Regions from separate parts of the Homo sapiens genome. Here all the other regions are reported to be linked to region 3. The links are microRNA targets in miRTarBase. Many come from high-throughput screens and were not tested one by one. Region 3 holds a microRNA gene; each other region holds the end of a gene's coding sequence.
The links. The annotated mature microRNA hsa-miR-3909 reads UGUCCUCUAGGGCCUGCAGUCU and lies in region 3 at 4,169-4,190, shown strand. An mRNA with a match to its seed (bases 2 to 7 or 8) in the 3' UTR can be bound and repressed. Matches are read on the target gene's strand: a 7mer-m8 pairs with bases 2 to 8, a 7mer-A1 pairs with bases 2 to 7 and ends in A, and an 8mer does both.

Region 1 (7,114 bases), not on the chromosome of region 3:
AAGGGGGGTAGAACACTAGGACCACCACCAACAGTAAAAAGTGCTGGTTAGCCAGGATGTTCTTACAGTAATCCATCCCCTGCCAGCATCCAGTACACGAGGCTTCTCTGTCCCGGCTAGAACCATTGCCTCACTGCTTTATAGATGCTGAGTCTTTTTTTTGCCATGGTCTTACTGTGTCACCCAGGCTGGAGTGCAGTGGCCCAATCCCAGCTCACTGAAGCCTCAACCTCCTGAGTTCAAGCAGTTCTCCCGCCTCAGCCTCCTGAGTAGCTGGGACTACAGGCACGCACCACCACGCCTGACTAATGTTTTTATTATTTTTTGTAGAGACAAGCACTCACTAAGTTACCCAGGCTGATTTTGAACTCCTGAGCTTAATCAGTTCTCGCCTGCCTTGGCCTCCCAAAGTGCTATGATTACAGACATGAGCCACCACGCTTGGCCCTGCTGAGTCAATCTACAGGTGTCATCCTATGCTGTAGACAGATGCCCTTATTTTTTTCAAGGCAAAAACCCTAGCCATTTTTCTCTTCCCCTTCAGAGTCTGAAACATCCTCTCAACCCATCCCTGTTACTACTGCTTGGTGCTCTTGGTGGGGATGCGGGGAGGCCTGAGAAGGCCAATGTCTATACAGAAAGTTCTAACATAGAGCACTGAGTCAATGTGGGCACTTTGAAGCCCTTTCACCTGCCAAGTCACGAAGCACCCCTACAGTTGTGTTTGTAAAATATTGGGGGGTTTGAGGGGGAAAAGGGATAACTCCAAGGTACCATCTTTGCATTTCAGATCCACACAACTTAAAGATCTGCTGCCGAGTGAATGGGGAAGTGGTCCAGAGCGGCAACACCAACCAGATGGTATTCAAGACAGAGGACCTGATAGCCTGGGTCTCCCAGTGAGTGACAGGGGCTGTCCTGCCAGCCCCGCTTCACCTGCCACACATGTGGAGGCTGACCTGAGCCCTCCATCTTTGGCTGTGGCCACCTCAGCCAGCCCCTGGTCTCACCGGGTCCTTCTGCTTTGATCCAGGTTTGTTACCTTTTACCCAGGGGATGTCATCCTAACTGGGACCCCCCCAGGTGTCGGTGTATTCAGGAAACCTCCTGTCTTTCTCAAGGTAGGTTAGCGAAAAGCAAAGAGCAAGGGCCCCAAAGGCCTGGCAGGCTTGCCTCAGACTTGAGAAGTACAGGCTTGTGTATGTGTGTCTGACGGAAGGGCTGACACTGTCATGGCCTGCTCTGTTGCAGAAGGGGGATGAAGTCCAGTGTGAGATTGAAGAACTAGGTGTCATCATCAACAAGGTGGTGTGATGGCTCCTGCACAGGCCCTGCACATAGGATGAGGGCATCTGCTCCCACTCAGCCTAGCCCAGGGAAAGGCCCAGTGACAGGTGTGGACAGGTGCCAGCCCTGCAAGCCGCCTCTTCTCGGTAGAAGGGAGAAGGACAGAGCTCTCTTCAATAAATTCGTCAGGTCAAAGCAGCAGCTTTGCTTCTGCTGTTTGTCTTCTTTTGGGCTTTGTTTCATGGGACAAGTTGGGGCATTTTGTGGGACTGGGGAAGAAGAGAGCAAATACACACACATATGCCAAAAAGATGCTGCTGGGCTGGGGAAAAGACAATTCGTGTCGTCCCCTTGTTTATCACATCAAAGAAGGGAAAAAGCAAGAGATGGCAAGGGACAATCAAGCCTCAATGATTATATTTATAGCTAAGGGTTTGCAGCCTCCTCTCCATCTTCTGGCTCTAGGACACAGCTGTGTTCTGGGGCTCAGAAGTCTCAGCACAGGCTCCTTCTCACAGTTCTAGCTACAAGTGAACTGCCGGATGAACTGTTCTAGTTTTTCCTGATTGTCCAGGCTGGCAAAAGTAGGGGACAGGTGGAGCCTGGGGCCTGCAGGGCTCGGCGTCTGCTGCAGAACCTGGGCCATGGAAGATGGGCCGTGAGTGCACTCACCACAGGGACTGTGTCCACATGGCCCAGGGGCCAGGCCTGTCCCCCAGAAACCTGCCTTGAGACCTCTGACCCCTTAGGCCTCAGTGTTTGAGTGCAAATGCTGCCTCAAAGCAGCCCCAATACCCCACCTAGAAGGATGAGCCAGTGATTTGGGAGACCAAGAGGCAGGAAACCATCCCACCTTCTCCAACCCATCACCACGTCTATTGCTGGAAGACACCAAGTAAATCCCAGGGTCTTAATGAGGCACCATCAGGCCAGCCCTGTGGGGTGATGGGAACATAGCTGGGTTTCCCTGAGCCACTCTATTGGGGTGGGAGCAGGGGGACAGAAGATGGTGACACTGGCTCCTCTCACCCCTAGGTCTCTGAAGGTCCAGATAGCACTGATGGCAAGCTTTGGGTCTGCACACTCTGGAAAGAAGAGAGAAGTGAAGGCTCTAGGTAGGGAGGACAGGGAGACACTGGGCACAGGCTTCTCTCCTCTTGTTTAAAGAAGCCCAGGGAGGGATAGATCTCCGACTGGACAGAAGACTACTCTGCAGCCCGCCTTCCTAGAGTTGGGTTGTCACTGTCCGGCAGGGGGCAGCAGCCACCAGCAAACACCACTGCCTGCAGGAGCCTGGGCTGACTGGTTGGGACTCACCAAAGATCCCTTCTTCCTGGGCGGTGGCCTGCAGGAACTGGAACAGCTGTTGGAGAGGAGAAGAAAAAGAAGACATCAAAAAGAAAATCTAGTGCTGGGTGGATATAGAGTATGAAGATGTGGAGCTGGGAAAACAGAGGATGTGGTGGGATGGGGAAGGAAAGGTTGTGGAAGGCCTGCACCCCGTCTCAGTTCCTCCACTGCTTCGTCCCAGATTCTGTTTTTGTTTTCCTGAATCAGACTTAGTCTCCCTCCATTCTCCCGTCCCCTGTGTGCCCCCATCCTGGTCCTGCCTCACTGGACAGCCTCTCCGCGGCCTTCCTCCTCCCTGCTCCAGAATTCTACTTGGTGCCCCCCAACCCCACTCGACTCATTGTCCACCTGGCCTCTGAGGCCAGGCACCCTCATTCCCCTCTCCCACCCACCCCACCCAAGGAAGCCCAGCACAGACCATCTCATCTCACTCCACCATCACTTCTTTGCCAAATGCATTTCCAAACACCCTCATGAGCTTTGCTGATCTCTTTGCCATCTCTCCCTGCCCCACTCCGATGGCTCCTCCTGCCTGGTGAAGACTGCCCTGGGTATCCCAGAACTGAACCTGCAGCAGCCAGCACAGCTGACCTTGGGGCGATAAGCAGCCAGGGAAAGGCTTTCTTAAAAAAAAACAAAAAACAAAACCAATAACTCAGTAAGCAGATTAAACAAAGGTAGAGACGGAGCCCTCCACCCCTCTCACACACTCATCCTCACACCCAGCTATACCACACCCCACAAATGTTGCTTATGTTTCCTTGGTCATTCTGTCCATCCTCCTGTCTGTCCAAAGCCAAGGACACTGCTCTACTCTAAATTTTTTGTCCCGAAGCCCCCAAATACTGCAACCCTGACCCAATGCACGAAGCCACCCCAAAATACAGCAGAGGACACCAGGACTTTCATTTTCCCTCAGTATGGCCCATCCTTTGGGTATGCCAACTCCATGTCCACCAAGCACTGCATGTAGGACAGGGCACAGTTTGGAGGCCTTGGTCCAGCCACTGCCCCAGACCCACCTTGGCTCTCTCCTCACTAACACCCGAGAAGCCCAGACTTCCCAGTGTTTAGCAACAGATTAAACTCTAAGCCAACAACAACAGAACAGGGTGGAGTGAGTGGAAAGCAAATGAAATGTTAAAAAAAAAAAAAAAGCAATACTTGCATTCTCATTAGTAGGAACATGTGAGATGAAGCATGTTATGTTATTAGGCATTCTCTTGATTCGGTAAACACAAGCTGAATAAATTTATAAATATCAGCATTAAGCGAGATTTAACGGGGAGCTGTTTATCTTCTGCCTGTCAGGCAGGCGGCAACACTCTCCATGTATCACTCGCCAGCCGTGCAGTCCTCACTCTCTTGCCCAGGTAAGCTGGGGAAGAGCCTGCTGCCGCCCAGCTCTGGTTGTGGAAGGGCTGGCACCAAGGAGCTGCGAGCTTACCTCAACTCATCTCACCTCACCATGCCGGCTGCGAGGCGGCCCGTGCAGTCCGTGCGCAGGAGGTCACACTCCCATGCTGCATCCCAGCCCCTCCAGAAGCAGAGCATGACCTGGGTGACTTTGAGGATGCTATTTAACCTCTCTAAGCTAAAGCTCCTCGACTGCAGCATCAACAGATCAGTGCCGACCTGTTAAGGCCGTCGAGAGCATCAAATGCTACTGTTCAGCAGGTGCCTGACACATAGTAGGTCCACAAGCAAATGATTTTCCTGCTTGCATCATTTCTAGCACAGAGCTGGAGGAAATGGCGAGGTGCAGGTGGCCGCTGGGCCCTGCTGTTCTACATGGGAGCAAGACAGCTGCTAGGTGAAGGGGAATGACCAGGCAGCCACAGGGAGGACATGTGGCCTCAGGAAGCCTGGGTGTGTATCCTGGTTCTGCTAGGAACACGTGTGGGGCTTTGTGTGGGTGACTCTCTGGCTCCCCAAGCCTCCCTTTCCTACTGTTATATCCTTAAAGTGCCTCTGAGGCCAAAGCCTTTGTGGCAATTGTCAAATGAGTCCATATGCAGTGAGTACCGTGTTGAGGGAGGACAAGGTCACCAAGAGCTGAGAATGTTTCTCCGACTGATGAGACCTAGATATTGGGTACATGGAGGTCCCCGGTCCCTTTGTGATTCCTGCAGCCTGTTGCCTCCTTGCCTGGACCCCGCCTCAGCTCAGAAAGCCAATTCCCTAGATTCCAAAGGCCTTCCCAGACCAATTAGCATGTCCTGCAGCTGTCAGCTCCCTGTGCCTAGCCTGGACCTCAGCTCATGTCTAGCACCCAGTCTCCCAACCCCACACATATTCACAAATAAAAGAAAATAACAAATGACATGAATTCTTCACTCCTGGTCTGGCTTGCTGTGTGTAAACTGCTATGACAATACAAGACGCAGAGGCGGGTACCCAATAAAAGCTGTTGAAAATGTGACTGACACCGAGTTTCAGCTATCCAGGAAGGCACGGATCCTTACAAGGTCCAAGCAGAGTCCTCGAGAATAGTTGAGAATTCTTGGGTTCCATATGAACTAGGAGATACCCACACAAAGGCTTGGATTTCCCAATACATAACTACCCCTGAACACTCCTTCTTTCCCTCGTCTCTCTGCTGAGACCTCTAGACCCTAAGGATCCACCCAGGACAACCTCTCCAAAGGTACCCTGATATGCTTTTCTTCCAGGCAGCATTTCCACAGAGCTGTGGGTGAAAGTCACAGGATGAAAATGTGCCATGGGACTGTATCTCCCACCAACACACTGCAGGCAAGGGGCACACAGAGTGCCCCCTCTGCCCATCCCAGGAATGGCCATCTAAGAATGATGCAATCTTTTCTAAAAAGAAAGTAAATAAAGGCAGGTGCCATATAAGAAGACCTTGGGGGACTATAGGGATGTTCCTTAATGTCTCAGAACATCTGCCTCCATCAATGAAATGAAGGATTCAAAGCAGCTCATCCCTGAGTTGACCTTAATGCTGAATCCTAAACATCACCCTTAGGATGCTATCTGGCTAGGCAGGGAATGAAGGATCTGGGAGCTGAGTTGCAGGAAGCTGCAGCAGCTTCCCATTTACAGATCCTCTAGTGCCAGTTTTTCAGGCTTCCTGACTAAGAGAAGCAGCCAGGCAAATTCCACCATTCAGCTACATTTACAGGAAGCTGGCTATTTGGGAGGCTCTCTACCAGAGGCTTTGGGAAAAAAAATGCAGAATTAATGTAAAGATCACATATTTACCTATGAGAGAAAAGATATCCAAGGATGCCCTTCGGCCTCATTTGATCTAAAACTAGGCCTGGAGCTACCTAATTGTCAAGTCAGTTCAGGCTTCTATAACAAAAATACTATAGACTGGGTGGCTTAAACAACAAACGTCTATTTCACATGCTGCTGAAGGGAACAACCATGGTCAGGAGCATGATGAGGGCCCTCTTCCTGGCTTGGAGGTGGCCATCTTCTTGCTGTGTCATCACATGGCAGAGAGAGAGACAGAGAAAGAATGAGAATGAGAGGAAGCAAGCAGTTTCATATTTTATCTTATAAGGGCACTAATCCCATCATGAGGGCTCCATCCCCATGACCCAATAGCCTCCCAAAGGCCCCATCTCCAAATACCACCCCACTGGTAGTTAGGGTTTCAACATACATTTGGGAGTATACAAATATGCAGTCCACAAAACAAATACCCCTAAGTTGTCTGCATATGTATGCTTGTTCTGGTGCTGCTTTGAGTATCTCAGACGATAGAATCGAGTGTAGATCAAACTTCTCTAGGCCTCAATAGGGTGAATCTAAAGATTGGGTCACAATAATGGCAATAAGCCACAATTCACTGGATTAATCTCACCTACTCCTTCAGGGGCCTATCCACATTCAAAGTACCACAAGTACCTGTAGAAGTCTCTGAGCAGTATCACAAAGACTGACATAGATACAGGCAAAATAGAAAATGGATAGATGGTAGTATGGGGTTGGGGGTGGTTGTGTGTGTGTGTGTGTGTGTAAGGAAAGAGGATGTCTTGTACTTGGGATACATGGGGATATATTGTTTTTGAGGCTGTTTGGTGGCAATACTTGCCCTGAGCTCAGGAAACAGGCCAGAGAGATATATCTGTTCCCTACTTAGAAGAGAGCACTGATGCATGAAGGTTGGGAGGAGGCCAGAGAATAGTGTATTGAAAGAAGAGAATGTGACCAAGGCCCCAACATTAAAAATGAACCTTGAATTGGAGATGGGGAATGAAGAAAAAGTCAGAGAAGAGGGCATACGTGGAGTAATCTGAAAGACAGGAAGAGCCACAGGTGTGCACAGTAACCGGGATGTGAGGTTAGTAGAGAGCTTCAGGAAGGAGGGAAAAGGCATTCATGACAAACACTGCAGGACACTCACAAAGATGGGGAATGAGTAAAAGCCATCGAGCTTGGCATTGATGACCTTCATGGGAACCATACAAGGAGAAACCTGTGGAATGAAACCTAACTACACAAA
Region 2 (7,097 bases), not on the chromosome of region 3:
GTCATCTTTTGAAGGGAGACAAGGCAGGAATGATGGATGGGTGTGTGATATGAGAGAAAGATGGGTCCGAGGCTCTGGGCCCAAGCAGCTGGGTGGATGGCAGCAATGGGAACTGTGATGAGCAGGAGAGGTTTTGGATGCGAGATGGGAGTAGAATCAAGAGTTAAGTTGGAGGCTGAGCACGGTGGCTCACACCTGTAATCTCAGCGCTTTGCGAGGCTGAGGTAGGCAGATTCTTTGAGGTCAGGTGTTCGAGACCAACCCAGGCAACCTGGCGAAACCCTGTCTCTACAAAAAATTAGCAGGGTGCGGTGGCCTGTAGTCCCAGCTATTCAGGAGGCTGATGTGGGAGGATCACTTGAGGCCGGGAGGCAGAGGTCACAGTGAGTTGAGGGAGTGACACAGCACTCTTTTGAGACCCTGTCTCAAAAAAAAAAAAAAAAAAGACAGAAGAGACAGGGTCTCACTATGTTGCCCAGTCTGGTCTTGAACTCCTGGGCTCAAGCGATCCTACAAACTTGGCCTCCCAAGTAGACATCTGTTTTATATAATTGGCTCCTCCCATCTCTGGGGTGATTGGGGCTGGGTAGGTAGTGATGCTATTCTTATTCGGCAGAGGGGAAAATGAGGCACATGCAGGTTAAGTGACTTGCTCAAGGTCACACAGCAGAGCTGGGCTAGAATCTTGGTCTCGGCTCCTGGCCCAGTGCTCTTTCCCATGTGTCTGAATCTGCATCTTGGGCAGGGGTCCCTGGGCCCCACTCCTGGACCCCCGGACTGACCCCCACCCCATCTTGTGCTTAGCAGATTCTTCCCCTGGTGGCCATGGGACCCAGGTCAATGTCACCTGCATCGTGAACGTCTGTAGCAGCTCTGACCACAGCTCACAGTGCTCCTCCCAAGCCAGCTCCACAATGGGAGACACAGATTCCAGCCCCTCGGAGTCCCCGAAGGACGAGCAGGTCCCCTTCTCCAAGGAGGAATGTGCCTTTCGGTCACAGCTGGAGACGCCAGAGACCCTGCTGGGGAGCACCGAAGAGAAGCCCCTGCCCCTTGGAGTGCCTGATGCTGGGATGAAGCCCAGTTAACCAGGCCGGTGTGGGCTGTGTCGTAGCCAAGGTGGGCTGAGCCCTGGCAGGATGACCCTGCGAAGGGGCCCTGGTCCTTCCAGGCCCCCACCACTAGGACTCTGAGGCTCTTTCTGGGCCAAGTTCCTCTAGTGCCCTCCACAGCCGCAGCCTCCCTCTGACCTGCAGGCCAAGAGCAGAGGCAGCGAGTTGTGGAAAGCCTCTGCTGCCATGGCGTGTCCCTCTCGGAAGGCTGGCTGGGCATGGACGTTCGGGGCATGCTGGGGCAAGTCCCTGACTCTCTGTGACCTGCCCCGCCCAGCTGCACCTGCCAGCCTGGCTTCTGGAGCCCTTGGGTTTTTTGTTTGTTTGTTTGTTTGTTTGTTTGTTTCTCCCCCTGGGCTCTGCCCCAGCTCTGGCTTCCAGAAAACCCCAGCATCCTTTTCTGCAGAGGGGCTTTCTGGAGAGGAGGGATGCTGCCTGAGTCACCCATGAAGACAGGACAGTGCTTCAGCCTGAGGCTGAGACTGCGGGATGGTCCTGGGGCTCTGTGCAGGGAGGAGGTGGCAGCCCTGTAGGGAACGGGGTCCTTCAAGTTAGCTCAGGAGGCTTGGAAAGCATCACCTCAGGCCAGGTGCAGTGGCTCACGCCTATGATCCCAGCACTTTGGGAGGCTGAGGCGGGTGGATCACCTGAGGTTAGGAGTTCGAGACCAGCCTGGCCAACATGGTAAAACCCCATCTCTACTAAAAATACAGAAATTAGCCGGGCGTGGTGGCGGGCACCTATAGTCCCAGCTACTCAGAAGCCTGAGGCTGGGAAATCGTTTGAACCCGGGAAGCGGAGGTTGCAGGGAGCCGAGATCACGCCACTGCACTCCAGCCTGGGCGACAGAGCGAGAGTCTGTCTCAAAAGAAAAAAAAAAGCACCGCCTCCAAATGCCAACTTGTCCTTTTGTACCATGGTGTGAAAGTCAGATGCCCAGAGGGCCCAGGCAGGCCACCATATTCAGTGCTGTGGCCTGGGCAAGATAACGCACTTCTAACTAGAAATCTGCCAATTTTTTAAAAAAGTAAGTACCACTCAGGCCAACAAGCCAACGACAAAGCCAAACTCTGCCAGCCACATCCAACCCCCCACCTGCCATTTGCACCCTCCGCCTTCACTCCGGTGTGCCTGCAGCCCCGCGCCTCCTTCCTTGCTGTCCTAGGCCACACCATCTCCTTTCAGGGAATTTCAGGAACTAGAGATGACTGAGTCCTCGTAGCCATCTCTCTACTCCTACCTCAGCCTAGACCCTCCTCCTCCCCCAGAGGGGTGGGTTCCTCTTCCCCACTCCCCACCTTCAATTCCTGGGCCCCAAACGGGCTGCCCTGCCACTTTGGTACATGGCCAGTGTGATCCCAAGTGCCAGTCTTGTGTCTGCGTCTGTGTTGCGTGTCGTGGGTGTGTGTAGCCAAGGTCGGTAAGTTGAATGGCCTGCCTTGAAGCCACTGAAGCTGGGATTCCTCCCCATTAGAGTCAGCCTTCCCCCTCCCAGGGCCAGGGCCCTGCAGAGGGGAAACCAGTGTAGCCTTGCCCGGATTCTGGGAGGAAGCAGGTTGAGGGGCTCCTGGAAAGGCTCAGTCTCAGGAGCATGGGGATAAAGGAGAAGGCATGAAATTGTCTAGCAGAGCAGGGGCAGGGTGATAAATTGTTGATAAATTCCACTGGACTTGAGCTTGGCAGCTGAACTATTGGAGGGTGGGAGAGCCCAGCCATTACCATGGAGACAAGAAGGGTTTTCCACCCTGGAATCAAGATGTCAGACTGGCTGGCTGCAGTGACGTGCACCTGTACTCAGGAGGCTGAGGGGAGGATCACTGGAGCCCAGGAGTTTGAGGCTGCAGCGAGCTATGATCGCGCCACTACACTCCAGCCTGAGCAACAGAGTGAGACCCTGTCTCTTAAAGAAAAAAAAAGTCAGACTGCTGGGACTGGCCAGGTTTCTGCCCACATTGGACCCACATGAGGACATGATGGAGCGCACCTGCCCCCTGGTGGACAGTCCTGGGAGAACCTCAGGCTTCCTTGGCATCACAGGGCAGAGCCGGGAAGCGATGAATTTGGAGACTCTGTGGGGCCTTGGTTCCCTTGTGTGTGTGTGTTGATCCCAAGACAATGAAAGTTTGCACTGTATGCTGGACGGCATTCCTGCTTATCAATAAACCTGTTTGTTTTACACGTCGACCCCTGGCTCTGCCTGGGGTCTGGGCTTGGGTTTGTCCATGCTCCTACTTGTCTGCCACCCCTGTGTAAGGGGAGATGGCGTCACGGTCCCTGGAGTCTGGCTGGCCCCTGTTGTGACTGGACCACAGAGGGACCCCTGTTACAGCCGCCCCCTCAAGCCTGTGAACCATAAGAGAACTTCCTGCTCGGGACCACACAGCTGGCTGGGTTCCAAGTGTGCCCTGGTCTCATGCCTTCATCCTCCAGGTCTCCTGGGCCTGCTCTCAGGACCGGGATGGGGTCTCTGCAGATCCCTAGCAGCCTAGGCAGCCAGGCTCTGCCCTCCTGGGGACCCCACTCGGGGAGAGTGGTTGCCCCTGGGATACTCAGACCAGTACAGGGTTTTGGGGGCCCAGAGGACATCCCTGGGCCCAGGTAGGAGGTTAGAACAGGGTTCTGGAGATGACCTCTGACCTCCTCCTGAGGGATGAGCAGCAGTTTTCCAGAACAAAGGATTGCAGGGAACTGTCAGGCAAAAGGAGTTCTGAGTTTAAAGGCCTTAGCCTGGCCAGCATGGTGAAACCCCATCTCTACCAAAAATACAAAAAATTAGCTGGGCATGACGGTATGCACCTATAATCCCAGCTAGTCAGGAGGCCGAGGCACGAGAATTGCTTGAATCAAGGCAACAGAGGTTGCAGTGAGCTGAGATCGGGCCACTGCACTCCAGCCTGGGTGACAGAGTAAGAGTCTGTCTCCAAATAAAATAAATAAATAAAATCAATTAATTAGAAGAAAGCCTTGGAGGGGAGAGAGACCTTGGCCTGTGTATTGGTTCCACTGACCCCCTGGGTCACCATCGTCACTCCAGCTCCTGTGACTCCCTCAGTGGGACCATTTTCATTCTTGGTGATTATAGGATCTGTGATTGATGGAACGCCCCGCCTCCTGGCTTCTCGCCCTCCTCTCCTCCATGGTCCTGTCCTCCAGCCTGTCTCAGTCACTCAACCCTTGACCAAGGCTCCCCACACTTATTCCATAAAGAGCCAGGGAGCAAATTTATTTTAATTTTTTGAGACAAGGTCTCACTCTGTTACCCAAGCTGAAATGTGATCGTGGCTCACTGCAGCCCTGACCTCCAGTCGCAGCCTCTTGAGCAGCTAGGACTACAGGCATGGACCACTATGCCGAGCTAAATTTTAAATTTTTTTATTTTTATTTTTTGGGTTTCCCTGTGTTGCCCAGGCTGGTCTCGAACTCCTGGGCTCAAGTGATCCACCGGCCTGGGCCTCCTGAACTGCTGGGATTACAGGTGTGAGCCATTGCGCCTGACCAGAATCAATATTTTACACTTGGCAGGCCTTACAGTTTCTGCAACAACCACTCACCTGTGCTGTTGAAGTGTGAAAACAGCTGTGCACAGGACATGAAAGAATGGGCAGGAGGCGGATGTGGCCTTCGGGGTGTGCCCATGCCAGTGCCTTAGAGCCTGGCATTACTGATAACTGCACGCTAATCTCAATTTCAAGCATCCCACTTCCCCCCACCCCTACTTCCTCCTGTCTTTCTCCCTCAGTGGCACCTGCAGCTGTTGGTTACGTTTTCTCCCTTGTACGCACCCACGGCACTTTCTCCTGGTTTGTTGTTCTCTCTCTGGTTGAACCCAGCTCTCTGCCTGTGCCACACCTGCACGTCTGCACCTGGCTGGGGCAGGATGATGGCCTTCCACCATGCTGGCTGGTCGCGTTTTCATTTCATGATCATTAGACTTGGCTGGGCACAGTGGCTTATGCCTGTAATCCCAGCACTTTGGGAGGCTGAGGTGGGCAGACTGCTTGAGCTCAGGAGTTCAAGACCAGCCTGGGGCAACATGGTGAAACCTCATCTCCACAGAAAAATACAGAAACTAGCTGGGTGCGGTGGCACGTACCTGGAATCCCAGCTACCCATGAGGTTGAAGTGGGAGGATTGCTTGAGCCCAGGAGGCGGAGGTTGTTGTGAGCTGAGATCTTGCCACTGCACTCCAGCCTGGGGGATGGAAAAAAAGAATAAATTCTATGGGGGTCCTTGGTGCTGCCCAGCAGTGACAACAGGTCCCCTCCCCGATATATTAGTTCCTGTTGTTGCTATAACAAACCACACAAACTCAGTGGCTTAAAACAATACAATTTCATTCTCCTACAGCTCTGGGAGCCAGAAGTATAAAAGCAAGGTGTTGCCAGGCCTGCTAGGCTCAAATGGGGAATTTGTTCTTGGAGGCTTTAGGGGAGAATCTGATTCCTTGCCTTCAGCTTCCAGCGGTACCTGCATTCCTTGACTTATGGCCCCTTCGTCCATCTTCAGAGATAGCAACGGAATCTCTTCAGAAGTCAGATCTCCCTTTGCCTCCCAAGTGTAGGGACACCTGTAATTACAACGGACCACCCAGAAAATCCAGGACACTCTCCTCGTCTTAGCATCTTGGCCAGGTTTCAGGAATTCAGACATCAATGTCTTTGCAGGGGCAAAGACAACCATTGGTTATGCAGCCTACCAGCTCCTATTCACTCAGTCTCCCACTCTTTCTATTTATCTTTTAATTTTATTTATTTATTTATTTATTTTTTGAGATGGAGTCTCGCTCTGTCACCCAGGCTGGAGTGCAGTGGTGCGATCTCGGCTCACTGCAAGCTCTGCCTCCCGGGTTCAAGCGATTCTCCTGCCTCAGCCTCCCGAGTAGCTGGGATTATAGGTGACACCACCACGCCCAGCTAATTTTTGTATTTTTGGTAGAGAAGGGGTTTCGCCATGTTGGCCAGGCTGGTCTTAAACTCCTGACAGGTGATGCACCCACCTCAGCCTCCCAGAGTGTTGGGATTACAGGTGTGAGCCACTGCGCCTGGCCTATTTTATCTTTTAAATAAAAGGATTAATTGAGGTTTTTGTTTGAGACTGAGTACCACTCTGTGACCCAGGCTGGAGGGCAGTAGCGCAATCACAGCTCAATGCAGCCTGAAACTCCTGGGCTCAAGTGATCCTCCCACCTTGGCTTCCCAAAGTGCTGGGATTATAGGGATGAGCCACCACACCTTACCCCACTCTTCTAGATGGACTATTTCATGTGTTCTCCTTTATCCCCAAGCCTCTGTCCTCACCCCACCCTTACCTTCAGTTGGTTACCTTGCTGTCTATTTCACCGAGAAAATAAAACACAAGAGAATGCTTCATGCTTGCCCCACCACATCTGCCCTCTCACCCTGCATCTGTGCCCACAACCCTGGCCTTTGCCGTGACTGGGTCTGAGGACAGCGCCTCCCCTGCACGGGATCTTAGCATCTCTCCTGGCTCAAGGACATTGCTTCAGTGAGTCTCCTGTCTCTTTCCTTCAGCATCAATTTCTCTGGCTCCTGGATCTTTCCTGTTTGCATATAGACACCCTGAGGTTCCTCCCATTTGTGAAACAACCTCACACCCATTAGGACAACTACTATCAAAAACCCAGAAATTAGTAAGTGTTGGTGAAAATGTGGAGAGATGGAAAACCTTGTGCGTCGCTGAGGAGAGTGCACAGTGGTCCAACTGCTATGGGATACAGTGTGACAGCGACTCAAAACATGGAACATAGAATTACCATCTGATCCAGCAACTCCGCTTCTGGGTGTGTACCCTAAAGAACTGAAAACAGAGTCTCAAACAGATATTTGTACAGCAGTGCTCCCTGTTCATAATAGCCAAAAGGTGGAAACAACCTAGGTGTCCAAAAGGTGGAATGGATAAACAAAATGTGATCTACAGGCTGGGTGCAGTGGCTCACACCTGTAATCCCAGCACTTTGCAGGGCTG
Region 3 (7,114 bases):
AATGGGGGAGGAGCAGTTCCTCTAAAGAGTACTTAGGTGCTATTACAAAAGAAGGAGAAGGGCTGGGCGCAGTGGCTCACACCTGTAATCCTAGCACTTTGGGAGGCTGAGCCGGGAGGATCACTTGAGGCCAGGAGTTTGCAACCAGCCAGGCCAACATGGTGAAACCCCGTCTCTACTAAAAAATACAAAAAAATTAGCCGGAGGTGGTGGTGGGTGCCTGTAATCCCAGCTTACTTGGGAGGCTGAGGCAGGAGAATTGCTTGAACCCAGGAGGCAGAGGTTGCAATGAGCCGAGATCGCACCACTGCACTCCAGCCTAGGCGACAGAGCAAGACTCCATCTCAAAAAAAAAAAGGAAAGAGAAGGAGAAGGATTGCTGGGTCTGCAGAAATTGTGTGCCCATCACACCTCCTCTGTATCTGTAAAATGAGGCTTGTGGCATAAGTGAGAGTCCATGAAACAGTGTCTGTAAAGCGCTTAGCAGTCCAGGGTGTCTGATAACTGACATGAGTTATTCCAGCCTCCTCCAGCCCCTTGTTCATTTTTTGTGTCTTTCTCCATCAAAAGACACTCACTGATTGATTCTAAATCAGTGGAAAGTGGGGGGTACCCTGCAGGTCACGTCTGCCTAGCTTCTCCTGCTCGTTGGCCCAGTGGAATGAAAGGCCTCTTCCCTGCCATTTTGGGGTATGGGCTGTGAGGTGACTGAGGGGCCCCATCTGGTAGCAGCTGGTACCCTCAGATATCCACAGTCATTAGGCTTAATATCTGACTGTGCTTTCAAGCTCGCAGTCACTTATACCCATGTCCTAATTTGGGCTTCAGCACTTCAGGGAGGCAGGTGCCTACAGATACTAGACAAGCAGACTAAAGTTCAGAAGGAACATAATTTACCCGAGGTCATGTGATAAGTGACAAGGCCACGACTTGAACAGACCCCACACTAAAGTCTTCTCGATCTATCACACCGGCCCCTAAGTAGCTCCATAAAACAAGATTAGAGATACATGTATCTTTCTTACAGCACTGAAGAGAGCACTAACACACACACACACACACACATACACACACACAAATATGTAATTGAAACAAGTTTCATAAGACAGTCCTTACCTTTACTGCGTGCCATGCATTCCTATTTTCTTTGCTGTTCTAACCTATTCCTGTTTATTTGTTTCATGCTACTCATGACTAAGGTTGCCTTATAATTGATCATCCAAATTGGGACACTTTTGCAAGGGAAAGAGGAGCACTGCTAGTTACCCAGGGACAGCAGGCATGAACTGGATCTGTCCAGGGCACACCAGACGTGTCATCACCCTGATCATAACCCACCGTGTTGATGTTGAGACCCACAGTTTGAAAAGCTCTGCCTGGCCGTGTGTGGGGGCCTGTCTCAGTCTGTCTCCATAACTCGTGTCTTTTCTGTCTTGTAGGTTTGAACGGTTCCGAACAGGCCAGACCACCAAGGTAAAAGTCTTCTTTTCTGTGACTAGATCAGGCCCTGTTCATGGGAAGAAGGAGTGCCATTCTCACCTCCCTCCCCTAGTAAACTGGACAGGGTGGTGCTGTCTTATCCAGGCCCATAGAGAAATCCCCTTCTAACTTTTTATGTCCCTGTCCCTTTAAGGTAAATAAGGCTGTGCCACCACCTGATGCCCCAGGGTCTCCCCAACCTCCCAGGGAGTCCAGTTGAGCTGGAGCCAGAGGGGAGGAAGGAAATTCCCTGATGCCCAGTCCTAGCTCCTGGGGCCCTGGTGACAGATCCCTGGGCAAAGCCTGCAAGCCACAGTGCTTGGGGCAGAAAGGAACGAAGCTGCAGACAGCGGGGATGATCAGGGCATCTCCCTTCCCACCAGGCCCCAAGTGAGGCCGAGCCGGCAGCTGACCTGATCGACATGGGCCCTGACCCAGCAGCCACCGGCAACCTCTCATCCCAGCTGGCAGGAATGAGTAAGTGTGGTTTGGAGGGCTCCAGCTGAGGGTACATTATGGTACTGTGGGCACCCCTGCAGATTTTCGGGGTGCCCTTGTTATATACCCACAGCAGAGTGTCAGTCTGGACCCCACCTTGCTGGGGTCCCAGGCTGAATCTTGCTGCAAGGTGGGGCACTCGGGGTCACTGCCCCTGGCAGCCCCACAAGTCCTGAGCCGCCTTGGATCTCAGAAATCCTACCATCCTAGGATTGGCCCTCTACACTGAATTCTCCATGGCTTCAATCATCTGCGTGAGCTTGGGCAAGTTCCTTAAACCTCCTGAGCCTCTCTTTCCTCCTCTTTAACAGGAGTAGGGAGCTCGTGTATGAGAAGCGCTTAGACCATGCCAGGCCCAGGTTGCACTCTGGCTGAGTAGTTGGCCATTGTCACTGTTATCACTGTGATAGGTTTTAATATAATTTACTGTCTGCTTCATGCCAAGCCCTAGGAAATCATTAGCACCCCATTTTGCATCACTAATGCTATACTTTTTGAAAAAATCGACTACCCATCTGATTACTGTCCTCCTGCCCAGCCACTTCCCCAGCAGAATCAATGGATAGCGTTTTGACTGTTCTCTAACGCTCACAGCAGCCCCAAGAGGGGTGAGTAAACTAAAGCTGGGAAGAGGAAGCCGCTTGCCCAAGGCCCCACAGCCAGCAGCAGGTGGCCTGCCTCGCGCATTCCCCCACCCACACGTGCCACTTCCCCAGCACCAAGCCCTGGGTCTGGCAGCAGGTAGCTCAGCAGCAGCTCACACACAAGCTTGTGGATGGGTCTTTCACGTGGCCTTTCTGTCCCTGCAGACCTGGGCTCCAGCAGTGTGAGAGCTGGCCTGCAGTCTCTGGAGGCCTCTGGTCGACTGGAAGATGAGTTTGACATGTTTGCGCTGACACGGGGCAGCTCACTGGCTGACCAACGGAAAGAGTGAGTGGCCTGGCCCTGCCCTGGTCCCCTGCAGTTCGGGTGGCTCTCGGGGTTCTGGAACCCGGTTTTATGGTGGCACACCATGAGGAAGGGCACACGGACCCTGCTTAGTAAGCACGCCCTTAGTATCCCCTAAGTCAGTCCAGCATGGCCTGGGAGCCCTGTGGTCAGTTGACAGACTGCGCTCCCCACAGGCCATGCTGGGTGGGGGAGGGGGAGCCTAATGACCCACTGTATGCCAGAATCTTACATAGTCTGATCAGAGGGGGAAACTGAGGCACAGAGAGGGGCAGGCTCATTTGCCCCAGGTCAAGGAGCTAATATTTGGCAGCACTAGGTTAGGAGCCTAGGGCTGTCTGGTTCCAAAACACAGTGTCTCCACCCCCCGCCCCCCTCCCTGCACTGTGTACCGCATAGTAAGCCCTCCAGGAGCAGGGAAGTTTCCTGATAAATCCTCAGGGACTTTCAAGTCAAGTCTTTTTCTGTTGTTCCATAGCCACCGTTAATTTCCAGAGAAGATTAAGCAGGTTCTGTCAGCCTTGCCCCAGAGCTGGGGCTCTGCCCTTCCCTGTGCACCGTGCATTTTCAGGGGGTACTTTCAGCAGCATAGGCACGTGGCCTGAGTGTGTCCACCAGGGTCTGACCCCTTGCCGGGACCTGCGGGAGAACTGGCCCCGTACAGGCTTGTAAGAGGAACAGTCTGCTTGATGTTTTCTTCAGCCTTTTGCCCACTGTGACCCCCAGGGCTGAGCTGTGGGCAGCCAGGATTCTTATAGCTAAGGAAAGTTCTAGATTATGGGATCTTCCCACTGACCCCACTCAGCTCCTTAGAGGTCATTCTGGTGTCTTTTGGAACTTTGTCAATGGGCCTCCAGAGAGCCCAGGGATAACCTCTCCACACCCACAAATCCAGGTCCAGGCTGTAGCCTGCTAGGTCCTTAGGGCTGCCCTGGCTGTTAGCTGTATCTTTCTTTAGTCTGGGCAGAGTCTGTACTTTTAAGCCCAGGTACCCTGGGACCAGCAGCTGTTGCCATGGAGTTAGGGGTGCTGCCGAGGCTACCCTGCAAAGGCAAGCTAATGAGTGTGATGGGACTTGCAGCCAGACACGCCCATCCACAGAGGCCCCAGCAGGCAACACTGCTGGCCATACTGGAGAACCCTGGCGCCTGCCCTGGTCACCAGCCTGGCTGAGGTATGCTGTTGCGCTGTCCTTCCTCTGGGGAGCAGGCTCCGGGGGACAGGGAAAAGCACACAAGGAACTTGTCCTCTAGGGCCTGCAGTCTCATGGGAGAGTGACATGCACCAGGACCACCGCTGTGAAGGGCTAAGTGCTGTCCTGGAGGGGGCACCAGGCTCTGTGGACACAGAGGAGGGAGCATGCAACTCTGCGGAGGGTACTCAGAGCTGGACCAGGTGCTGGGTGATAGGAAGGCCATTTCAGGCACTAGGAACAGCATGTGCAAAGTCTCAGAGGCAGGGCGGGAGAGAGGTGCCCTGGCTCCCGCACAGCAGCTGGGAAAGATGCTCTTCACACAGGGAAGGGGGCAGGATGCTGAGAGGGTGGTGGGGCCCACTGGGCTACAGAGAGGCAGTTGATTTTATTCTAACATGAGCAGGAGGGAGCACAGGAAGGATCTTTTTTCTTATCAGATTTTCATCTTTGAAACTGCCTTCAGCTGAGCACAGCTGAAATGACATCATGCACCTTCTCAGGCCATTGGTTCTCCTGCAGGCCCTCCCCAGGGCTTGGTTTCCACCCTGGCAGAAAACATCCAGCAAGGTCAGGCGTGGACCTGAGCATCCATTTCGTCTTCCCTTTGTTCTCCTGCCTGGCTGGCCCCCTTAAATGCTTCTGGTGGATCTTCCAGCTCTGGTCACCTGACTGGCCTTTTCTGCCAGCTTGGTGTCCAGCCCGCTCCTCCCTGTACCTGCCTGGCTCCCCACTTCACACCAGCCTGCAACCAGCTCTGCCCTGGCTGGCAGGGAAACCAGCTCCTTATCAGCCGCTGTTTCTGCTCCAGCCTTGACCACAGCTGGCACCGTCACAGCCTTCCTGCAGCCAGTCCTATCCACTCAATGCCAAGGAGTAGCAGGGCTTCTGGGCGAGCCACAGCAGAGACGCCTCGGCTAGGCCTTCACAAAGGCAGGGGTGTCCTTCCCCCGCTTTGTCCGCATCTTCGTCAGTGCTGCTGTACACAGAGGCCTTCTCTACAAGGAGCACTTAGACAAGTGTCACCCCAGTGGCCCAGGTGCAGCCCCTGCCCACCAGCCCCACTGGGACCACCTAAGGAGTGACCCTCCACCCTCCTGCACTGGGCAGGGGGCAGCAGGCCCTAGCCCAGGGGTCACCACCCAGTGCAGGAGGTGCGGGCTTCCTCCAGGGAAGTGCTTGGCCCTCCACCACCACAGGCATGGCCTTCAGGGACAGCTGGGCTTCAGGGCCATGTGTGGGCAGGGGTGGCGAGGAGCTAAGCTTAGGAAGGGCAGATAGTTCTTTTTTTTTTTTTTTTGAGCCGGAGTCTCGCTCTGTCTCTCAGGCTGGAGTGCAGTGGCGCTTGCAGAGTGCAAGCTCCACCTCCTGGGTTCACGCCATTCTCCTGCCTCAGCCTCCCGAGTAGCTGGGGACTACAGGCGCCCACCACCACACCTGGCTAATTTTTTGTATTTTTAGTAGAGACGGGGTTTCACCATGTTAGCCAGCATGGTCTCGATCTCCTGACCTCGTGATCCGCGCGCCTTGGCCTCCCAAAGTGCTGGGATTTCAGCCACTGCACCTGGCCCAGATAGTTGTTTTGAGTGAAGGGAAATCATGGGTTTCTGCGTGTTCTGGGGCTGGGCATGGCTTCTTCAGCCTTGCCCACAATGCGCCAAGCATGTCTTAGAGACAGCAACAAGCACCTCCAGACCCTCAATTAGCAGGCCTTCTCTGGGTCAGAAGTCAGCAACCTGACGCCCCACCTCCCCCGCCACTGGCTTTAAGGTTGGCTCCAGCAGGGCCCTGCCGTAGTCACTGGCCCACTTGCCATGGATGGGAGCCGTGTAACCAGGGAATGCCCCAGCTAGTGGTCACACTCCACCAGCAAACTCTGCCCCTGGTGGGAAGGAACAGACAGCAGCACTCTTCAAAATGACTGCGTGGGAACTGGGGGTCATATTCAAGAAGCCCCTTTCAGTGCCAGCCTACTCCATTCCTCAGAAAGCAAGCTGGTATTGCAAGAGTTAAATGTGATGCAGTCCCAGTTCCTGAAGCCTACAGTTAGACCAGCCCCGCTTCACTAGCGTGTCAGGTGGCCTTGTTCCTAACAGGAATCGCAGGCCTTTCCCTTTGTGACCAGAATTCTGTGGCTTACTTCTTTGCCTCAAAGCTGCACTGAGCCAGTGCTGAAGTCCTGTCTGCCGGCAGTTCAGGGCGAGAATAACAGGGCTCTTTCCCTGCAACAGGGCTGGGTCCCCAACACCTGCCCTGGGCACCCCCACTGCGGCAGCTGGGAAAGACACCATAGCCGCCTCTCCTCCTTAGCCAGCTTCTCCTCTCACTCAGGTTATTCTCTTGCTCCCCAGGAGACTTAACCTCACACACAACATACCCTTCCTTGCCTCTCCTCATCTGCCCAGCAACTGTGGGGTCAGCCTCTGCCGCTCCCAGCCCATCAGCCTTGCGTGCCCTCCCAGTTCCTGCCTCCCCACCCTGCCTAGCTGGCTGGCACCCCCCAGAGGACATTTAGAAGAGCTGTAACCAAGCCACCTCCCATGCTGCTGAGACAAGGTGGGGGCAGAGTCATCTTTGTGCTGGTGAGCCAGTGCAAGACAAGATGGCACCTCACCCAGCAGTTTATAGATGTGTTTTCAGCAGCAGAATGGAATCCCCCATTCAAATACGACCTCATACACAACCACAGTCTATAAAATAGGAAACAAGATCTGCTCAAGAAAGGGTCTGCTGGGAATTCTCCATGAGCCTACGGGCACTGGAGCTATTTATCAGTCTCCTGAGTTTGGCCAATCCTGGTCATAGCCATTGGTGGTCTTGGTCTCAGTCTTTGGCCAGCAACACCCTCCCTAACCTCTCCAGCCTTTGCTGCTGTCTGTCATGTAGGTCACTTGTCAGATCCTAATTTCCAGAGGCAGGAAATGAGACCCTTTTTACCATTTCCAGGCAGGCCTGGAGGATGGGAGCCGTCAATCTGTGCCCCCCAGCCCGCTCCGT
Region 4 (7,114 bases), not on the chromosome of region 3:
AGATGCAGGTGATTGAGCAGGAAACCCCAGTGAGTGCAAAATCCTCTCGCTCGCAGCTGGACTTGTTTGACGATGTTGGTACTTTCGCCTCTGGACCCCCAAAGTAAGGCTGTTTTCTAGCTGTAAACTTGGCTGCTGTGTTCCTCATCAGGCTTCTCTGAGCCACTCTACTGTCTCCCTAGGTACAAGGACAATCCCTTTTCCTTAGGGGAAAGCTTTGGCTCCCGCTGGGATACAGATGCTGCCTGGGGTATGGACAGGGTAGAGGAGAAGGAGCCAGAAGTGACCATCTCAAGCATCCGGCCTATTTCAGAAAGGTAGAGTGGGCTGTTTTTTCTTTTTTCTTTCTTTTTTTTTTTTAAACAAGCTGAAGGTAGAGAATTCTAAGGCAGCACTGTCTAGAAGAACTTTCTGTGTTGATGGGAATGTTCTCTGTGTTGTTTAATATGGTAGCCACTACTATGTGGCTATGAGCCCTTAAAATGTGGTTGGTGCAACTGAGCAACAATTTCTGATGTAGTTTAATTTCTGATAAACGTAAATAGCCACCAGTGGCTGGTGCCTGCCTCATTAGACAGGGCAGCAGTCAGGCTTCGGTTTGAGTTGTGCTTTGTCATCATAGAGGGCCTGGCAGCTTCTTTTGCTTGGGGTCCATTTCTCTGGCCGGAGGAGCCTGATTGTATGCTTCAGTCCTGACCTCCTTTCAGGGGTTTTATGTCTCCAGCCCCCTTCTTATTTTTTAAAACCCTACTCCATCTTAATCTGGGATCTGTTTAGTTGACATAATATCTGTGAGTTATCCCCGTATAAAATGGGAACGTAACTACTTCATAGGGTCTCCGGAAATACCTGGCCCAGTGTCCACATACTCAGCGTGAGATGAGAGCAACCATCTCCCTTTCCACACCAGGATGCTTTTGAGAGTAAAGGGGGCAGTTTGCTATTCATAGTTATGACAAGAGTAGGTATAAAGCCAGGCAGACCGACACATATGCTCATTGTAGTACTAGGCAAGTTGTCACTAGGATTAGGGTAGCAGCAGTTGTGTGGCCTCCTGAATGCTGACGAAGCTGTGTGCTTTTGGGCAGGAGCCTAGGCCACTGCAGGCTGTATTTCCACCCTGCCTAGTGCAGGTTCCTAAGCTCTCTGGGCCTTGGCCTCAATGTGGAGAAGGGTGACTCCTCACCAGGGGAGAGGGGCCCAGAGCCACAGAGCCACAGACAGAATGGGACCTGGTAACCCATCACCAAAAGGCCACTGGTGCTCTGTTTGGCCTCTGTACTCTGCCTCCCCTGATGATAATGGGAGGAGTCCGAGATATTCCACATCTTCCCCTCAGAGCCACAAACCGGAGGGAAGTGGAGAGCCGGAGCTCAGGCCTCGAGTCTAGTGAGGCGCGTCAGAAATTCGCAGGAGCCAAAGCCATCTCATCTGACATGTTCTTTGGGCGGGAGGTGGATGCAGAGGTAAGTGGGGCTGTCTGCCCTGAGGTCCGAGGCAGCAGGCAGAAGCATGAGCTTTCTCCCTGCCGCTGCTTTGGGCTTTAGCACCAGGAGGGCCTGGCCTGTGTGAGTCCTTGGGTCATCAGCCCCAAGATCCCCAGGCCTGGCCTTTTCCTCACCACAGTATGAGGCCAGGTCTCGGCTGCAGCAGCTCTCAGGCAGCAGTGCCATCAGCTCTTCAGACCTCTTTGGGGACATGGATGGAGCTCACGGAGCAGGTAGGGCCCTGGTGGGGTGGCAGGCACCAAGTGAGGCCTGGGAGCAGGGCGGGAGGGCCCTGCTGTGACTGGGAAGGGCTTCTTGCTGGGCTCTGGGTCACCCTGCTCTTGTTTTACAGGAAGTGTATCTCTGGGGAACGTGCTGCCTACAGCGGACATTGCCCAGTTTAAGCAGGGTGTCAAGTCTGTGGCTGGGAAAATGGCTGTGCTGGCCAATGGTGTGATGAATTCCTTGCAGGTGAGGCTGAAGTGGGGCCTAATGAGGAGTGCTGGGAGGTTTGCCCTTCGCCACCACATAGAGACACTGCTACTGCTCAGCCCCTCTGAGCCTTAAGAGCATTTTCGGCCGGGTGTGGTGGCTCACGCCTGTAATCCCAGCACTGGGAGGCTGAGATGGGTGGATCACTTGAGGTCAGGAGTTTGAGACCAGCCTGACCAACATGGCAAAACCCCGTCTCTACTAAAAATACAAAATTAGCTGGGCATGATGGCGTGCACCTGTAATCCCGCTACTCGGGATGCTGAGGCAGGAGAATCGCTTGAACCTGGAGGTTGTAGTGAGCTGAGATCATGCCACTGCACTCCAGTCTGGGTGACAGGAGTGAAACTCTTGTCTCAAAAAAAAAACCACAAACGAAAAAGCAAGAGTCTAGAGAGAGGCATTTTCTTGGAGGGCAGCTTCCTTCCTTTCAGCTCCGTGCCAGGGCCGGGCCTCTCCAAGATGCCTCTGTGTCTGCCATGATCTTCCCTGGCCTTGTCACCTGTACCGCTCTTTCTCTTCTCTTCCCAGCTTCTGTGAGGCCAGGCAGGGCTTCCCTGTTGTCGGGTGCCCGAGTGGCCGCTGCCCCAGCTCTCACCGTGGACTCCTGCCTCACCGGGCTGTCCAGCCCCTGCCTCCCCAGTCTTGCTGTGGGGTGCTGGGGCAGGCAGTGTGTTTGCTGGGAAGCTGCTGCAGCTTAGAGCCTCTGACTTTTTTTTTTTTTTTCTCCCCCCTCGCCCCCAGGATCGCTACGGTTCCTACTGATCCGAGCTCTGTGACTCAGGCTTACGATGGTGACGGCAACAAGAACTCCACAGTTCCCAGGCTGGGGATGCTTTGCCTTGTGGAAGCTGGGGAGGATTTGTTACTTCGTATGTGTGGTGTGTGTGTGGGGTGGCCTTTGAGGCGCTCACTCCTGTGAGGGGAATGGTCAGTACCAGCCCTTGTCCTCTGCCTGTGGACTGAGCCCTTTATTCCCTCTCACACCACCCTCCGTGTGTTAGACTCTTGTCCTTCTGTCCTGCCCCCACAGCTGCTGCTCACTTATCCTGCCATACTGGGAAAGGGGGTTCCCCCACGATGGCTTATTCTGGGTCCAGACTTTCCCCAGGTAGGGAAAGCGGAAGGTAGAAGGCTTTTTTTGCTGGCTCTAGGGTTCTTCTAGTTCGAGGCCTTGGGTCCCCATCCTCTGGAACCAGGGGGAGGCCTGGAAGGAGTTCACTGTAGACCCGTCCCATGGGGAAAGAGGCTGCGGACTTGCTGCTGCTGCTGCTGCCAGTGGCCTCTTCTGGGTGCCAGGAGAGGGGAAGGACCTTTGTCTGGGCGTTACCAAGGGCTGGAAACTTTACCTGGTACCTAAAGGTTTCATTTGGGATCAGACCGGAGACCCTTGGGTTCTCCCGTCTCACCACCCCTTTCTACAGTAAGCACTTGGAAGATTGTTTCAGGGTGTCTCAGGGTCCCTCTGTACCATCTGCTGTGGAATGCAGGACCCTCTGTGACATTCTTTATCCCTTCTTCCCCGGGTTGGTGGCCATGGAGGGTCTTGTCTGCTGTGATTCGACTCTGGATGCTGTGAGCTTGATGCTGGCCAGGGAAGCAGAGGATGTGAGAGGCAGAGGCAGGCTCCTGGGGCTGAGCTCCTTCCTCTGCATCATTCTGGGCTTGGCCTGGACAGCACCCGCCAGTGAGAGCTGTGGGCCTCACCCTCTGGCAGCTGAGCCAAGCACTGTCATTCTTGGTGCCATCTTCCCCTGCCGCACCGGCAGTCTCAGCCCAGCCCCCACCTTTGGGTTGTAGGTTGGGCTCCCAAGCAACACAGACCACTCTTCCCCTTGCCCCTCCCCCAGAGGGACTTGACTTTCTTTCTGGACTGTTTGTATTGAAACAAAGTGGTGTCAAAATAAAGCCCCTGCAGGGCCTGGCTCCCTGTTGGTCTGAGTGAAGCAGTGTCCTCTGGATCCTGCCTCCCTGCCCAGTGCCGGCCCCTGGCCTCACTCTCTGGGCTCCCACCGGTAATGGTAGGGCGTCGGTACCGAAGCTGAGGACACTCTCTCCAGGGCCTCCTGCTTCTCTCTTCTCTGAAAGCCAAAGGCCCCTGGCTCCTTGGCTCTGTGCTGCCGTGAGGTCCGGTGCAGCTTCGACCTCACCACCCTGTGGCACGCAGAGGAAAGAGCTGGCATTAGTTGGCCCTTTAACTCGCTGGCTGAGGGCGAGCGAGCAACCTCAGCAGTCCTGCCCCTTGTCACGGCAGTAGGCTTGACTGGGGATGGGTTTCAGTGGAGTTTAAGAAATATTTAACGCCGGGTACAGTGGCTCATGGCTGTCATCCCAGCACTTTGGGAGGCTGAGGCGGGTGGATCACTTGAGGCTAGGAGTTTGAAACCAGCCTGGCCAACATGGTGAGACCCCATTTCTACTAAAAATACAAAATTAGCGGGGTGGGGGCGGTGTGGTGCATGCCTGTAATCCTAGCTACTCAGGAGGCTGAAGCAGAAGTCACTTGAACCCGGGAGGCAGAGGTTGCAGTGAGACTAGATCGCGCCACTGCACCCCAGCTTGGGTGATAAAGTGAGACCCTGTCTCAAAAAAGAAAAAATTACATATATATACATACACACACATACTCTTAGACGTTAATGGGACCCTTTAAATTTAGGGAAGAAAAGGTGTGTGTTTGTGTGTAAATCCTTAGCTTGGCCACCCCTTTCTCTTGGGGGCTTCTGAAACATCTCTGTGCCACCTTAGGAGTCCTCACGGTAGTTACAGACCACTGGTCTGGGAAGTGGATGATTAGAAAGGATGGGCAGAGGGAGCCAGGGGGCTGTAAGCCAGGGATTTGCAGAGTGTAGGTTTGGGACTCATTCAGCTTTGGGATCATCTGGAATTTCTGGACTCCATCCCAAGTTGATAGAGTTAGACTCTCTGGAGCTTGGTAATTTGCATCGTCAGTAGGCTTTCCTGTGATTCTGAGGACACCAGGATTTGAGAACCATGTCTCTTATGGGCTGTGCATCATTGTGGGCCTACAGAGCTCATCACGCAGCCTGAGCTTTTTTTTTTTTTTTTTTTTAAGATGGTCTCATTCTGTCAGTCACTCAGACGGGAGTGCAGTGGCACGATCATGGCTCACTGCAGCCTCAACCTCCTGGGTTCAAGTGATCTACCTCGGGTCTCCCAAGTAGCTGGGACTACAGGTGCAAGCTACCATGCCTGGCTAAGGTTATTTTGTAGAGATAGGGTCCTACTATGTTTCCCAGGGTGGTCCTGAACTCCTGGGCTCAAGCAGTTGGCCCACCTTGGCCTCCCAAAGTGCTGGGATTACAGGCAATGAGCCACTGCATCCTGGAGCAGCTTCGGGGCTGGAATGCCTAGTCTTGGCCTCAGCTCTGCAGGGGTTTGGGAGGCAGTTCCTGTAATGATCCGTTCTGGGTAGGGATGAGCCCAAGGAAATGTGTATGCCTAGTAGTGGTGACATCCACCTTCAGAGGAGGCAGTCCTGTTCTGCTTGGGCTTCTGGGTGGGTTTTGCTTTCTGGGGGACCCCGCCCCTTCAGCCCTCAATCCAAAGAAGTTGAAGACACTCGTCCTTACCTGCCTCCAGTCTTGGCTGGGATGTGTCTGCCCCAGGCTGTGTCTGTCTGTCTTTCACAGCTGCATCCCACTGTTCTAACCCCAAGCAGGTGCTTGGCAAATGTTGACTGAAACCCTGGCTGGAAGGCTGTGCAGTATTAACCCTTTATGGCCACGGTCTTTAAAGTTATGGGAACCTGGCCTTGAACCCTCTGAACCTGTTTCCTGAAGGCCGTTCCAGCTGTGAGCACTTTTCCTCTGGAAGGTTGCTCTTGTGCGAAGCTAGGCCCCTCTGCTCGTTGTCTGAGGCAGGTCCCCAGGTCTGAGTGGGCCACTGGCCTACCTCCTAGTCCTACCAGAAAAGCACCGAAAACCCAAACTCCCCCTCTCCCTTCTCCCCTCAGCCTAGGAGCTTTAGACTCACCAGTTACCAGACATGAGGGACTTTTTATTCGTTTCACATGTTTGTTTAGCTATTAGACACAAAGGGGTCAAGACTTGAAGCAGTTTTTGCAAGTGAAATCATCTTCTGGCCCACCCTTCATATTACCAAGGCTACTGGCTGTTCTCCAACAGGCCACAGCGGTTATGTCCTCCTGGTACTTGCGTCGCAGGTGTCACCCTTGATGGTGCAAGGCCCTGCGTGGCTATTCGGGTTCTCCCCCTTAATGGAGTTGCTGTGAGGAGATGAACCTTATTGGGGGACCCGCAGAGGCTGGCTCAGAAGAGACTGCTCTTAAGAGGTTAGGAGGACTAACAGGCTACGGCGTGACAAGGTGGCCTCAGCACAGTCTGTCAGCTTGGGGCCTAAGTGAAGTTCACAGGCTGATAGGGCCAGGGAGAGCAGGCCATTCACCTTCCGGGGCCACTGGCTGGGCTGATCATCAGAGCCCCTCTGGCTGGTCTTGGGGCTGTTATTCACCTTGTCAGCAGCAGAGGGCAGCACAGCAAGGTGCTGGAGAGGAGGCTGGGTGGGCACACCAAGGGCTGGGTGGGAGCAGGTACAGGGCGCTGTGGGCAGGACCCTTTGGACTCCTCAAGTCTCCGACTCGTCTGTCTCTTCAGTGGAGCCATCACTCTCTCCATCCACTTTTCGGGAATGATGGAGAGGTCTCCAGGGAGAGCCAACCCGGGGAGGGGTCCGGGAAGGCAGGCAACTGGCCTCTGGACTGGCTGTGACCGAGTTGACCAGGCCTGGGACCTGGGCCAGCCTGAAGAAGGGAAGAAGCCTGGAGGGCAGCGAGAGGCCTCCTGTACAGAGAGCAGGGCCTCCATGCCCACTCTTAACACTAGGGTAAACCCCTGGGCTGCAGCCCCCAAAGGACTCAGAGGGAGGGACACCTCAGGCCTCCACTGGCCCCCAGACCCTTCCCTGGCAGATGTGGGATGTTACAGACAAGTGGTGTTGGCCCCAGATGGGGCACAGCCGTGTCCGACCCGTCTGGCCCCCACAAGGGGGCAGTATCCTCCCACTTGACACTTACAGCCGTTCCAGCTCTTCATCCATTGCTGGGTCGTGCATCAGATCCCCCTTGTCAGGCAAAGCTCCTAGGAGATCATTGG

Region 1: miRTarBase lists FAHD2A as a target of hsa-miR-3909. Seed matches in the 3' UTR shown: 7mer-A1 at 2,408-2,414, 8mer at 3,526-3,533, 7mer-A1 at 4,480-4,486 and 7mer-A1 at 4,673-4,679.
Region 2: miRTarBase lists TNFRSF1B as a target of hsa-miR-3909. Seed matches in the 3' UTR shown: 7mer-A1 at 3,077-3,083.
Region 4: the mRNA of CSTPP1 is a reported target of hsa-miR-3909. Seed matches in the 3' UTR shown: 7mer-A1 at 6,141-6,147.

The regions. Positions count from the first base shown.
Region 1 is chr2:95,411,644-95,418,757 of GRCh38, forward strand. FAHD2A (fumarylacetoacetate hydrolase domain containing 2A) reads left to right here. Exons shown (of 8, transcript NM_016044.3): 6 at 791-899; 7 at 1,034-1,121; 8 at 1,252-4,973. The coding sequence ends at 1,314. Among named protein-coding and RNA genes, the nearest start is that of FAHD2A, 12 kb to the left of the region's middle. RefSeq lists enhancers at 3,665-4,165, 4,166-4,666.
Region 2 is chr1:12,205,933-12,213,029 of GRCh38, forward strand. TNFRSF1B (TNF receptor superfamily member 1B) reads left to right here. Exons shown (of 10, transcript NM_001066.3): 10 at 808-3,288. The coding sequence ends at 1,088. Among named protein-coding and RNA genes, the nearest start is that of MIR4632, 18 kb to the left of the region's middle. RefSeq lists an enhancer at 1,058-1,558 and a silencer at 4,547-4,626.
Region 3 is chr22:35,331,542-35,338,655 of GRCh38, forward strand. MIR3909 (microRNA 3909) reads left to right here and starts at 4,099; the gene lies at 4,099-4,217. It overlaps TOM1 (target of myb1 membrane trafficking protein), which reads left to right. Exons shown (of 15, transcript NM_005488.3): 9 at 1,440-1,473; 10 at 1,863-1,956; 11 at 2,787-2,907. MIR6069 (microRNA 6069) reads right to left here and starts at 5,258; the gene lies at 5,180-5,258. RefSeq lists an enhancer at 5,274-6,183.
Region 4 is chr11:47,161,112-47,168,225 of GRCh38, reverse strand. It overlaps CSTPP1 (centriolar satellite-associated tubulin polyglutamylase complex regulator 1), which reads right to left. Exons shown (of 9, transcript NM_024113.5): 8 at 7,036-7,099; 9 at 5,979-6,762. The coding sequence ends at 6,588. It overlaps ARFGAP2 (ARF GTPase activating protein 2), which reads left to right. Exons shown (of 16, transcript NM_032389.6): 11 at 1-103; 12 at 183-317; 13 at 1,340-1,466; 14 at 1,627-1,720; 15 at 1,840-1,958; 16 at 2,724-3,925. The coding sequence ends at 2,744. Among named protein-coding and RNA genes, the nearest start is that of ARFGAP2, 12 kb to the left of the region's middle. RefSeq lists silencers at 6,957-7,114, 6,874-7,114.